Homo sapiens: one gene and its partner. The protein of the gene in region 1 interacts with the protein of each later gene in a pairwise test. Each region holds a gene or a part of one and is shown on either strand. Other genes may lie near its edges.

Region 1 (7,251 bases):
GGACATCGCCCTGCTGGAGCTGGAGGAGCCGGTGAACGTCTCCAGCCACGTCCACACGGTCACCCTGCCCCCTGCCTCAGAGACCTTCCCCCCGGGGATGCCGTGCTGGGTCACTGGCTGGGGCGATGTGGACAATGATGGTGGGTCTGGGGACAGTGGAGGTGGGGCCAGGGTCTTAGCCACAGCCCAGCCCCTGGGCTCCCTCTGGGCTCCAGGTGGGGGTTGCCCGGCCCCCTCCTGAGGCTGCACCCTCTTCCCCACCTGCAGAGCGCCTCCCACCGCCATTTCCTCTGAAGCAGGTGAAGGTCCCCATAATGGAAAACCACATTTGTGACGCAAAATACCACCTTGGCGCCTACACGGGAGACGACGTCCGCATCGTCCGTGACGACATGCTGTGTGCCGGGAACACCCGGAGGGACTCATGCCAGGTGGGCCCCGCCTGTCCCCCGCCCCCCGCCCCCCAACCCCCACTCCCAGGCCTGTTCGGCGAGCGCTGACCTCTGACCTTCCCAGGGCGACTCCGGAGGGCCCCTGGTGTGCAAGGTGAATGGCACCTGGCTGCAGGCGGGCGTGGTCAGCTGGGGCGAGGGCTGTGCCCAGCCCAACCGGCCTGGCATCTACACCCGTGTCACCTACTACTTGGACTGGATCCACCACTATGTCCCCAAAAAGCCGTGAGTCAGGCCTGGGGTGTCCACCTGGGTCACTGGAGAGCCAGCCCCTCCTGTTCAAAACACCACTGCTTCCTACCCAGGTGGCGACTGCCCCCCACACCTTCCCTGCCCCGTCCTGAGTGCCCCTTCCTGTCCTAAGCCCCCTGCTCTCTTCTGAGCCCCTTCCCCTGTCCTGAGGACCCTTCCCCATCCTGAGCCCCCTTCCCTGTCCTAAGCCTGACGCCTGCACCGGGCCCTCCGGCCCTCCCCTGCCCAGGCAGCTGGTGGTGGGCGCTAATCCTCCTGAGTGCTGGACCTCATTAAAGTGCATGGAAATCACTGGTGTGCATCGCTGTGTTTCTGGTTGTGGATGTCACTGGGAGAGAAGGGGTCCAGGTGTGCTGAGGACACCTGCCACAGTGTGAGGTCCTAGCCCTCAAGGCACAGCCAGTCACCGTGGGACGGGGCCTCCTGGGCAGCCCTGGTCCCCGAGGCTGGCTTCTCCCCACACGATGCATCCAGCATTCGGGTCACACAGAGCCACTCGGGCAACTCAGTTGATTATAAAGGACAGCCAGGTCCCTGCAACCGGGTCAAGACAGAGAATGGTCACCGGGAGCCCCAGGGCTGCCCATCACGAGCCCCTACCCCACGCTTCCCACGAGCTCTTCTCCCGGCCCCTCCGTCCACTGCTTGTGCTTTGCCTAGTTGTTTGCTTTGAGACGGGATCTCGCTGTGTCATCCAGGCTGAAGTGCAGTGGTGTGATCAGGGCTCACTGCAGCCTTAACTCCTGGGCTCAAGCGATCCTCCCATCTTGGCCTCCCATATAGCTGGGCCACAGGAGTGAGCCACCACGCCCAGTTAATTTTTGTATTTTCAGTAGAGATGGGGTTTCGCCATGTTGGCCAGTCTGGTCTCGAACTCCTGACCTCAAGTGATCCGCCCGCCTCGGCCTCCCAAAGTGCTGGGATGACAGGCGTGAGCCACCGCACCCGGCCTGAGTTTGACATTTTCAAATTCATTTTGAGGTCTTTCTCTACATCAATAGGTGAGCCCTCTGCGTCTGGCGAGTGTTGCATTTTATCCCGGGCTCTTGTTTGCATTTTATATTTGAACATGATTACACTCAGGAATGAAATGCGGGGCTGTTCTGGTTGAAAACAACTCTCTAAAGAAACATTCACTCTTTCCTTCCAACTGTTAGATGCAGAGATGTGCATTTAGTCTCCCGAATCTCTGCAAATGACCTCTGTCCTCACAAGGGGTGGACTCAACTCCCAGTGCCCTCTCCAGCCCCACGTGACCTCTGCCTCTGCAGCCCCTGAAGGCCCATCCCTCGGCTCCTGTTCTGCAGGCCCAGCGTCTTGTTAATGAAGATGGACCTGGAACTCGGGCCCTTCTTCCTCCCTCTGGCCCATCCCACCTTCTAGGGATCACAGAGACAGCACGGGGTGACCCCCAGGGAACACTGAGCCCCTAGAAGCACTTCCACACGCCCACTGGAGGTTTTGCGGGGTGGGAGTCGGAGGGATGAGACCCCGAAGGGAAGCAAGACGGCCCCTCAGGACAGGGCTGCCGGTGTAAGGAAAGGTGGACAGCAGGGGCCGGTCACTGGGTGGAGGGGGAGGGCGGGCTCCAGCCCCAGAGCTTCCCAAATTAGATCTAAGATCCCTGGGAAGCTCAGTGAAGCTCAGCCCAGTGACACTGGCAGATGTGAGCGTCAGCTTCAGCAGGAAGGGTCTCTCAGGACGTGGCAGGCAGGCTGCTGGCCAGGGCTGCAGCCACCTGCGTTTTGACTGGGACGGGGGCACCTGCTCCAAGGTCACCCACGTGGCTGCCGGCAGGAGGCCCTGGTTCCCCGTCACAGGGGGGTGTGAGGCGGAGGGCGAGTGGGGGGGACAGGGTTCCCACCGAGGGGACGGCACCCAGGTGGCCAGGCCACCGCAGACAGAAGCAATCCCAGGTCTCCCAGGGTCCTGGACAACAGGAGACCCCACCAAGCTGGGGGCAATCACCAGGGCCAGGCCCCCCTCCCGGTTCCTCAGTTGGCTCTCCTGTCCAATGGTGGGGGTGAACGGCACCATGTCACAGGACTGCTGGGGCTCAGGGGATGGTGCCTGAAGCTTCTTCCTCCCCAGCAGGCCTGCAATCTGGGTCGTGTGGAGCACTCTGCGGGGAGTGGCGTGCTGGGGCACAGGCAGAAAGACGGGGTCCCCAGTGCTGCAGGTGAATTGAGTTGGGACAGGTGAGGGCCCTGAAGTCCCCACCTGTGGGGACCTGGGGACAGCCCTAGAGGTCAGGACTAGAGGACCTGGTTCCATGAAGACCCTGCCCCTCAGGCTCCCTCCCCACTGGGTGACATCGCCCTGTTAGGGGCACCCTGGGCCGGGGACTCGTGGCTCAGACCCCGCTCCCTTGTGTGGGGTGGGACTGTCCTGCCTCCCCTGAGGCGCCCCCTCCAGGTGTGCGGCTGCCGTGAGGGAGGAGGGTGCCCGGCCGTGGGTGCACTGCTGGCCCCGCATGCTGGTGTTGTCCTTATTGGTCACCAGGAAAAACACTGAACCTCCAGTTCTGAGCCTTGGCTACCCCACGTGCTGGCGTGCAGGCGGCCACGTCTGTGCCTGGGAGGCCACATCCTGGTGGGTGGTCAGGCAACTCCCCCCAACCCGTGGCTGAGTTTCCCCACATCAAAGAGGGGATCCCTGACCTAGAAGGTCTCAGCTGGACCCTCCAGCCTGGCCTGTGATTTGGATCTGGGGAGGGCGGCAGGAAAGTCCCGGGCGCTGCCCAGGGCCCCTAATCAGCTGAGTCATCAGGCTGGGGCAGCCAGGACGGTTAGGAAGGGCCAACCCAGGCTGGGCCGTGAAGTGGTGCCCATCTGATCTGCCGCACGAGCACAGGACCTGCTGCCGGACGTGGGGACAGGGACTTCTCAAAGAGTGGTTGTCACGAGGGCCTGAGCTGTCTCCAAAGGGCTGCTGGGCCTTGAGTTGGGACCCTCCTGAAGAACCCCCAGGACTGGGCTCCCAGAGGATGAAGGAGAGGGGGTGGCGTGCCCCGAGGGAACCAGGGAGTAATTTTTGGAGGGGGCGGCACTCAGAGGAACACTCACCCCTCCCTCAGCCCTGGCCCCGGAGCAGAGACAAGGTGAGAAGTACTTTTGCCTTCTGTCCTTCCCCGCTTTCCCTTGACGGAGCCGGCCACTTGGTGCCAGGGCTGTGGCGTCCACACAGGGATAAATGGAGGTGACGACCCTTCTCTGAGGTGCAGAAGGAACAGGTGGGGCCGTCTGTGGAGCTCCGGCCTCCTCCTCCGTCCTCCCGCCCTGCCTGACAGCAGGTGTGTGGCCACCCCTATCCCCCACGCCCAGCAGGTCCAAGGGTCAGGCTGGCCCTCCTTCTCCCTACAGTGGGCAGACACCATGGCCCTTGGGGCCTGTGGCCTCCTGCTGCTCCTGGCTGTGCCCGGTGGGTGACCTGGCCTGGGTGTGGGGATGGGGGGGCATCTGCTTCCTGCCTGGACCCCTGATGGGGGTGAAACTGGGGGCTGGTCTGAGACGGAGAAACATGCTGAGTCCCCACCCTGTGGGGCCCCGTGTCTCCTCTGAAGAGACTGCACCCCTGGCTGGAGGCCCAGCTGTCCGTGCTGGGGAGAGGCAGGAGGGATGTGCGGGTGGGAGTTGGGGGTGCAGGAGTTGGCAGGGCGGGTGGTAGTTGGGGGTGCGGGTGGGAGTTGGGGGTGCCAGGAGTCCCAGGCCCTAGAACACTGGTGATTTCTTTCCTGAGCAGGACCTGGAGGGCGGGGAGGAGGCCCAGGCCTGAGGCCAAGCTCCCGGCCTCCAGCTGCCGTTTATGGCCTGTGGCTTGTCCCACCCAGCCCTGGGCCAGTGAGACAGCAGTTGACCCAGCCTCACCAGGCCGGGCCCCTCTGCTCAGGACCAGGCCCCACCCCAGTGCCGCCCTGAGGCCTGGCAGGGGCCTCTGGAGCCCGCACACCCCTCTCCTTGGCAGCCCCCTCCATCCTGGGCCCTTCGTCTTTCCCACAGGTGTGTCCCTCAGGACTTTGCAGCCAGGTACGTCTCTGACAGGTGTGGGGTGTGGGGGAGGGTGCAGGCAAGGCCTGGCAGGAGGGCCTCGGTGACCCTCTCCTTCCCTGGGGTCCCAATGGGGGCCCGGGGAGGTCATAGTTTGTCGCCGTGGTTTCTGCTCGCATCTCTCGGTTGAGTGGGGCTGGTCGGGGTGTGCTGCAGGGCTGTCTCCCCCACCACCACTGTAGTCAGTCTGTACCTTGGGAGATGCTCTGAGGCCATGAAACAACCTGGCCCTCCTCGAACTTTCTCCCCACAGCGTCCCCACCGTGGCCCTGGAACCAGCTGGGGGCTTTGCCGTGTGGGAGAGCCGGTGCCCCACCCCACACCCGCTGCCTATCTATAAACATCTCTGTCTGTCTACATCCCAGCTTCCCTTCCATTCAGCCCAGTGGCCACACTCCATCACCAGCACAATTATCCAGCTCAGGCAGACCCAGGTGTGGCCAGTGGGTCTCCAGCTGACTTCCTCTTAATTTCTTCTTAACTTACTGAGGTGAAGTTTACAGAAGATAAAGTTACATTATCAAGCGTCCAATTCAGAGGCCCCGAGCACCTTGGACAGTGCTGTCTGCCCCCCGCCCCCCGAATTTTATCCAGCTTCGAATATCTCCACCACCCCTGAAGGAAAACCGGGGCCCACTAGGCAGCCACCCCCAGCACCCCGGGCCTTCTCGGGGGCTCCACCGTTCTGAGCCCCTTTCTAGCCGCCTAGGGGCCCTCTGCAGCCTTTCCACCGCCTCCGGGAGCCCTGGTTAGTTTGTGGAGCATGGTGCTTAGAAAGGACGACCTGAGCCCCAGGCGCGCTCACTGCTCCTGAGACGTCATTTCTGCTGCACCCACGATGCTTCTGGGGAGAGTCTGGCAGACGAGAGAGCTGAAGAGCAAAGTCCCCAAGAAGGCAGGGAGGTGTGGTCAGGGAAGGCTTCATGGAGGAAGTGCAGTGGGTTTCTTGGGATCCCCACCAGGCACCCCTTCCTCCTTCGACTTAGGGTGTGGCCGGCCGCAGGTTTCGGATGCAGGCGGCCGGATCGTGGGGGGTCACGCTGCCCCGGCCGGCGCATGGCCATGGCAGGCCAGCCTCCGCCTGCGGAGGGTGCACGTGTGCGGCGGGTCACTGCTCAGCCCCCAGTGGGTGCTCACAGCTGCCCACTGCTTCTCCGGGTGAGTGTCCGGGTGGGCAGGGGCAGTCTCAATGTCCAGGCCCCAGTGGGGCATGCGCCAGCGCAGAGGCCTCCACTTGGTCTTGACTCACTCCGAGGCTTGGGAACTCTGAGCCTACTTCCTTCCAATGGAAAGGGAGGAGCTGGTTGCCCACCTTCTGTGAGGTTCTGCAGCTCTTTGCTCACCTCTAGGGATGGACAGCTCCCTCCCTCCTTCCCTCCCCTCGGTCTCTTCACGTGGAGCTGAGCTTGCAATCTGCCTCCTGACCAGCCCCTGCTGGTGTCGGGCATGCTGCTGGCTTTTCCAGGGGCTGGCAGGAACCCCAAGGTGCTGCCGTGGTCCTTGGGCCCTGCAGGGTGAGGCCACTGCCCAGGCTTTCTGCGTCCCAAGCCTAGGAGGGAAGAGCTGGGCTTCGGATGCCTGCAAGGGTAGGGTCTGGGCGGGGCCGACACTGACCTCCAGCCTCCGCAGCTGGCCCCTCTCACCCAGCCACCTTCCCTCCCAGGTCCCTGAACTCATCCGACTACCAGGTGCACCTGGGGGAACTGGAGATCACTCTGTCTCCCCACTTCTCCACCGTGAGGCAGATCATCCTGCACTCCAGCCCCTCAGGACAGCCGGGGACCAGCGGGGACATCGCCCTGGTGGAGCTCAGTGTCCCCGTGACCCTCTCCAGCCGGATCCTGCCCGTCTGCCTCCCGGAGGCCTCAGATGACTTCTGCCCTGGGATCCGGTGCTGGGTGACCGGCTGGGGCTATACGCGGGAGGGAGGTGAGGAGCCCCCGTGGGGATGCTGGGATGGAGGAAGGCAAGGGCGGCAGGAAGAGAGCTGGCTTGAGGGATGCTGATGCTACCACCTGCTCCTGGTGGCTTCCACACCCAGCCAAGGCCGCCCCTATCGGCTGTCCCTTTTCAAAGCCTGTCGTGTGGATCCAAAGCAGCAGCCAAACGTCAGATCACAACCCACGTGCCGTGACGAGGGTCGTGGTGGCATGGGACTTGTGTCTGGCAAGGTCTCCCATCCCCCCAGTGCAGGGCCTGGTGCCCCAACCTTCTCTGAAGCCTGTTCCCCCCACCCCAGAGCCTCTGCCACCCCCGTACAGCCTGCGGGAGGTGAAAGTCTCCGTGGTGGACACAGAGACCTGCCGCCGGGACTATCCCGGCCCCGGGGGCAGCATCCTTCAGCCCGACATGCTGTGTGCCCGGGGCCCCGGGGATGCCTGCCAGGTGAGCCTGCCAGGCCGTGACAGAGGATGGGGGCGGCTGAAGCCCAGGGAGGGGCTCCCCATCTTCTCGGCTCCCAATGCTCGCCTTCTCTGTCCTCAGGACGACTCCGGGGGGCC
Region 2 (7,271 bases), on another chromosome or scaffold:
CTGGACTTCGCTTGGTGCAAACGCCCCAGCCAGGCGCCCCATACTCACCTAGCACCATTTCACCCTGGAGCTGTTTCCTCCTGTTGAAGCGCTGGTGCTCACACCCCCTACCTTCAGGGCTCTGCAAGCACAGTTCCAAGGTCTGCAGCGCGGGTACAGTGCATGCCCTGCTGAGTGTGCGTCAGAGCAGTTGTCTCCCTGTGACACTTATTCTAAGACCCTTTTTGCTACTCATAAGTGGTAGAGTACCACACTCACTCATGAACCAGTGATAATCCAGGGTACTAACGGGGGCCCCGGAGTTTATTTGGCACCGAAGATTAAGCTACTTGGCAGCTGAATTTTTATCTAGATTGGGGTTAGGTTTGTATTAAAATTTTGCATTCCAGCAAGCCCTAAACCGTGCTTGTTCATTGTGGGATAATGCGTTCAACTGATGAGTTGCCAGGCCAGGATTGATGGGGGATTATGTGTATTCTGCTAGTTTGTCAGCACCTGATGTCACTGTGCTGGGGGGTGGGGGAGGCATGTTTGGAGTTAGGATGAGCAGACACTTGTAGATTTTAATCACACTCTACTTTGGGGCTCCCTGCTCTCCTATGGTAGCAGGGGGTTTCTGTGTCGTTCTTATGTCCTCATGTAAAGCTGCACATCTGTGAATGTCAGGTAGCTCTTGTGCTTTTCCCCTTAGATTGAGTTTCTAATCTGGGAATGACAGAGGGTGGCTGTATATGGAGACAGCAGCATGGGCTTAGGGGCTCTTTTGGTGCCAGTTACCCTACGGAAAAAAGGTTTCTTCAAATCACTTTCTACAAAGACTAAAAAATGGTTGGAATCTAGTGGTGCAGATTGTAATATGACTTCAGGTAATCAATACGGTTTGACAGGTGGAACATTTCTTAGATGCTGATGAGCAGGGCGCAAGTCTCAAGATTTTTAAATCATCTGAAAAGCACAGTAAATCCTTTAAAGAGCCCTACCTTGGCCATGTTGTTTCAAGTAAAATTGAATTTCAGAGGCAAAGCTTCACATCGGAGGCATGACGAACTAAAGAAATCCTTCCCAGAGACCTCCACTCTCTTCCTGTTGCCACCCTCCTCTGCCAGCAGCAGGGCAGGAAAGATGACTTCTTGGGGCTGTGTGCCTTTACCTTAAGAAGCAAGTGCACCCTGAATGCTTCTAATCCCGCAGCTGGGTTGTCTGGGTATTTGGATCTTTTTGGTGCTTGAGGTACTACCCAAGTTGGCAGGAAGCCAGGAGCCTGGGGGTGGAGGTGTCTTAGCCCCACCTGTGGCATGAGACAAGAGGTCTTCTCCAGCAAGGGATGGGTCTCTGACCCTTGGCTAAGAAAACTCAGGATTGTTAAATACGTACTGCATGGATAAGGTTGCTGTGACCCTGAAAAAAGGAAGAAGGCTTTTGGGTGGTGCGTGGTTCTCCTCTTGGAAGTCTTCCCAGATTTCGCCTCAGTACTCTCTTGCCCTAGCTTAAATCTTTCCTTGCTCTGTGTCCCCTTAGGCAAGTGAGGTCTCCTCTCAGGTAGGCATGATATTAAGTGCATGTCTAGAGGACAGTTCCTTCTACCTGCCCAGGTGCACTGGCTGAACTCACCTATGCCCACATCTGTGCATTGGCAGGTGATATAGATATACACCTGAGCTGTCCCCCTGAGCTGCAGACCTAACACTAGGTGTGGGCTCCGAGCTGTTCCACATCAAAACAGAGCCGAGGACACATCTCCCTCACTGAAGCTGTGTCTCCTACCTATTATGGTCAACACGTCTCATCTACTCATTTGTTAAAGCTAGAAATCTCTGGAGAGTTTTGGAGCTCTTTCTCTGTCTTCACTTGAAATCTCTGGAGAGTTTTGGAGCTCTTTGTCTGTCTTCACTTTGCCATCTAATTGGGTCAGCCCTCTCTGAGGGCTCACACCCACTCTTCCGGCACAGCGGAGCCTTATCTGCCCTTGGCCCAGAGAATGCTTCCAGTTCCTTCACTCCAGCCACACCGGCAGCACTTCCCAGTTTAAAACGCAGATTTCATCATCCCACTGTCTTCTGCCTCCCCAACCCCACCAAACCTTGGTTTGTTCTCTTAACGCAGTAAGTGCTTCTGATACCTACTGTGTGCCTTGGACCAAGCTGGAGTCTGAGAAGGTTGGGCCCAGGCATCCTCCCTACCTGTGCAGAGTTTAAGGTCTTGGGCTGGGGGTTGTATGTGGGGTACCTATCAAATAAGACCAGGGAGCGTGAAGTGCTATGGAGGGGAGCTCCTACCCCAGTATAGGGGGCTCCCTGGAGAAGCACCCTCTAAGCTGATACCTGGGAGAGTTGGGGGTGCAGGGGAGGGGTTGGAGTTGGGGCTGGATTGTTCGATGCCTTTCTTCTGTCTCACCCAGACTTCCTTATCTGCTAAACTCCTACTCATTTTTGTTTTAATTAATACCAAGATAGAATTTATCTCTCATAAAGCATGCCCATTCTAAGTGTACAGTTTAATGATTTTCAGTAAATTAATAGAGTTCATAGCCATTACCACAATCCAGTTTTGGAACATATCCATCACCCCAGAAAGATCCCTCTTTTGTACAAACTCCCTGTCCCCGTCCTCAAGCCGCCAGTCCCCCACAGATTTGCTTTCTGTCTCTAGATTTGCCTTTTCTTTCTATGTTTCTTAGTGTGTTTTCATAGGTTCGGCCCAAGAGCTGTTTCATTTGGGCCTTCCTAGAGTCTTCTAGTTAGAATCAATTTATCCCCCAGCACCGACGAAGTGAGCTGGGTGCTTGGCCATCCCGCTGCTAGATGGCGAGCTCTCTTACCTGCCTCTCCTGCCTGCACCTGGCTCAGCACTGGCACCTACAGAATACCCAAGGTGTGTTGGCTGGACCAGCTGAAGTTGTGTTCCTCACATTTCTTTTGTATAACTCCTGAGTATCTAGCAGAGTGTGGGGATTTAAAATACAGCGCATGTATTGATGTGTCAGGTGATGTGAGCCCTGCTACATACATACCTTAACTTGTTTCATCAAGAACTTGTGAGGCAAATGGCAAATCAAAAACAAAAACAAACAAAACAAAACAAAACAAATCTATTTTCTAAGCCAGGCACAGTGGCTCTTGTCTGTAGTTCCAGCTACTAGGGGGTGCTGAGGTGGGAGGATTGCTTGAAATCAGGGATTTGAGCCTGGGCAATATTGTGAGACCCTGCTTCTTAACAAACTTTTTTTTTTTGAGATAGGGTCTTGCTCTGTTGCCCAGGCTGGAGTGCAGTGATGTGATCCCAGCTCACTGCAGCCTTGAACTCCTGGGCCCAAGCAATCCCCCTGCCATAGTCTCCTGAGTAGCTAGGACTACAGGTACACACCACCATGCCTGCTGATTTTTAAATTTTTTGTGGAGACGAGGTCTTGCTATGTTGCCCAGACTGGTCTTGAGCTCCCGGGCTCAAATAATCCTCCAGCCTTGGCCTCTCAAAGTGCTGGAATTATAAGTGTGAACTACTGTGCCTCAGCCCAAGCCATTTTTCTAAATGAAAAAACTGAGGAGGCCCAGAGCAAATAAGTAGCCCAAGGGCATCAGCAGAAAGTAGAAGGATCAAGAATTAAACGAGGTCACTTTCTCTTCCGCCCTTGTTTTGGTAGTAATGATATGCCCTTTTATGGCCTTGCCTGGGCTGGTGTTCAGATTTTCCTGTACGAGTCTTGTCATCCCTTCCTAAGCCATGGAAGCTCCTTCTAGGGCATGAGTGCTGTGTGACACATGTTCACACAGTGTTGCCCCAGTACCTACCTAGTCCACAACTGAACAGGTAGAGATGGTTCAAGCAATGTGTGTGTGTAGAGAGGTCTCCTGGTAAATAGAAGGGGCTGGGGGAGGGCGTTGAATGCAGTGGTGCTGTGGCCTTGGGTGGCTTGGTGCATTTCTGATGCATTTCTCACCTTGGATCATTTTCACTCTTTGAGGAAGAGAGCAGAGGATGAGATGCCATTTGACAGATGCACAAACCAAGACACAGAAATTGTATACCCATTGTACGCCAGGTAGATCACAAATGACCGTTCTCTCCCATGGTTGTAGAGAACTCTCATGGTGGACAGAAACCATGAAAGAAATCATGGTGGAAAGAACCAAGACATTCTTGAATCGGAGTATTAGAACCTCATTTGCAAAATACCTTGGAAAGATCAGGGACACTGGGGTTTGAATTGTAGTCTTTGCTCTGTTGTTTATTGGCTGGTGATGGTCTCTGAATCTGTTTGCTCAGGTGCAGAAAGGGGTTTTAGGCTGAGCTCAGATATTGACAGGAACTACAATTCAAACCCAGGTCTGCAGATGTGGCAGACTGGGTTTGAACTGTAGTCTTTGCTCTGTTTACTGGCTGGTGATGTTCTCTGAGTCTGTTTGGTCATGTGCAGAAAGGGGTTCTAGGCGCAGCTCAGACGTAGATGGGGACGCAGATGTGAGTACCTAGGTGAGTCTGGCTGGTCACGTGTGGAATAAGTGGTGGTGGCTGCCATTACTCTTTAAGCATTCTTGGATCTAGTGCCTCCTCTGCCACTGAGTACAGAATTCCTTTTCAAATTCGGGCTTATGAGGCATGTTTTGATCCAGGCTGTCGTAGCAAGGGATTTGATGCTGGAGTCTGTGACTGCTGTGCGTGTGGAGGCTTCCGGAAGGCAGCCAGTGCTGGTTACTGCTTGGAGTTTGGGGAGCTGCCATTTTGGATTGTCCTAGCCTCATGCCTTCTGAGAAGCATCTGTCAGGGTCCCTGATGCACCTACAGAGACCCTGAGCTTGGTGGTGGGGGTTGCACAGAGAGAGCTGCAGGTTGTTCCTCAGGCATAACGAGGCCCGGAGCTGGTGGTCCCCTCCCTCTGTGAGTGTGTGCAGAGCATGGATCGGGTCTGGGAGTGTTCGTGCTGGCAGGCCGGAGGAGGACTGCTGGGCACACTTGCAGAATTGCGGTTCTGTACAGCAGTGTGTATCGACTGCAGCGCTCTTTTTCTCTAGCAGCAAAATGCTCAGCTCTCTGCCTTCTTTCTGTGCATTTAACAGACGTTTCCAGAAAGCAGAATTGATGACAGCCCCAACTCCTCCCTTTCACTCCCATCTTTTCTATTTGCTGCCCTGTAATCAATTTTTGGAGAGAAGTGAGAACCTCTCGAAATCGATCACCTATGTTGAAAAAAAATCATTTTTAACATCATGCAGTTTTCCGTATTTACTGTGTGTGGCTGGAGACACTCCTGGCAGAATGAGTGTGGGATGTAGGAGGTCCAGAAAAGCCCCCAGCTTCAGGGGCTGAGATAGGGCCATGGGTGGCAGAACTGGTTGTCCCCCCGCCCCCCAATCCCTCAGCAGTGGTTGAGGTGTGCTTTATTAGAAACTCTTCAGTCATGCAGTTTGGAGCCCGTGCTGGTGATGCAGCCTGGATGCCTGGCAGGGGCTTAGCCTCCAGGGGTGGGACATGAGATGTGGCTGCCGTGGCTTCTCTGTGTCTTTCTTCCCAGCGAGTAAAGGTAGACGCAGGGCTCTGGCAGGTGCTAAGGCCCTGCTTGCCTTCATGCTGGAATGCTGGCAGGTACAATTTATTCTTATTTCTTAGGAGGTGCTTTCCCCTCTTCTTTCTGAAGACATCCAGGGATAAAGAATTGCTGCTTTTATGAGCACATGTTCTTGGTGATATGCTGTTACCTTATCTAAAAACAATACGGCCTGGCTGATTATTCTCAGAGCTCATTGTAAGGTGAAAGGTTATGCATTTGAGAATTATTTTCACAGTGTGGATGGGAGTGGGGGGAGAAGATGTAGAGCACAGGTAAGGAATTCCAGGTTTTGGGGCCAGGGATCGCCAAGCAGTGTAAAGGGCTCACTGTGGCCTGTAGCTCCTTCCCCCTGTGGTTTGTGCTGGGCCAGTTGCTGGCTCCCCAAAACCATTATCACCATTATCATTATCACTATCATATCCATCACCTCACCATCATTATCACTGACATCATCACTTTTCTCCATCACCATCATCATCATCATCACTATCATCCCCATCCCCATCATCATCATTACCATCATCATTGCTGTCGCTATCATCATCATCATTCCATTCATCACCATTCATCATCACTGTCATCATCACCATCATCATCACTGTCATCACCATCACCACCACCATCATCACCATCGCCATCATCACTGTTATCGTCACCATTCATCATCACTGTCATCATCATCGTCATCACTATCATCCCCACCATCACCACCATCATTATCACCATTCTCCATCACCATCATCACTATCATCCTCACCATCATCACCATTCTCCATCACCATCATCATCATCACTATCATCCCCACCATCATCACCATCACCATCATCATCACTGTCATCATCAACATCCATCATCACTGTCATCACCATCATCATCACTATCATTACCATCACCATCACCACCATTATCACTGTCATCATCACCTTTCTCCATCACCATCATCATCATCATCATATCATCATCATCATCATCATATCATCCTCATCCCCATCATCATCACCATCACCACCGTCATTGCTGTCATCATCACCATTCACCATCAATGTCGTCATCACCATCATCATCACTATCATCATTATCACCATCATCACCATCACCATCATCATTACTGTCATCATCACCATTCACCGTCACTATCATCACTGTCATTATCACCATCATCATCACCACCACCATCACCATCATCACTGTCATCCCCATCCTCATCATCATCACCATCACTGTCATCATCATCACCATCACCACCATTGCCATCACCATCACCATCATTATCACTGTCATCATCACCTTTCTCCATCACCATCATCATCATCATCATCACTATCATCCCCATCCCCATCATCATCACCATCACCACCATCATTGCTGTCATCACCATTCACCATCACTGTCATCATCACCATCATCGTCATTATCATCATTGTCACCATCGTCACCATCACCGTCATCATCACCATTCATCATCACTGTCATCACTGTCATTATCACCATCATCATCACCACCACCACCATCACCATCACTATCATCGTCATCATCATCACTGTCACCACCATCACCATCACTGTCACCAACATCATGGTGCTTCTCAACCTTTGGGCTGCTTTGGGTCGTGCTTGACATGGCACATTCCTGGTGAGTTAGCTGTTCTTTGGGGGTTTTCTACTGTTGGTGTGGTGATTAGGGTAGTCAGGACAGGATGAGTATAGGCATAGAGAACCCAAGTG

The links.
Region 2: the proteins of TPSG1 (region 1) and HPCAL1 interact in binary tests that used the Homo sapiens proteins (3 or more experiments, as listed by UniProt).

What each region holds. Positions count from the first base shown.
Region 1 is NC_000016.10:1,222,080-1,229,330, reverse strand, and holds the start of TPSG1 (tryptase gamma preproprotein), read left to right. Parts: upstream 1-4,078; coding exon 4,079-4,124; intron 4,125-4,702; coding exon 4,703-4,729; intron 4,730-5,736; coding exon 5,737-5,908; intron 5,909-6,413; coding exon 6,414-6,679; intron 6,680-6,989; coding exon 6,990-7,135; intron 7,136-7,234; coding exon 7,235-7,251. Other genes in the region: TPSB2 (tryptase beta-2 preproprotein), read left to right, coding at 1-140, 268-431, 517-681; uncharacterized protein LOC124903621, read right to left, coding at 2,091-2,877, 3,770-4,080.
Region 2 is NC_000002.12:10,305,823-10,313,093, forward strand, and holds part of HPCAL1 (hippocalcin-like protein 1), read left to right. Parts: intron 1-5,880; exon of another isoform or gene 5,881-7,271. UniProt on the Homo sapiens protein: May be involved in the calcium-dependent regulation of rhodopsin phosphorylation.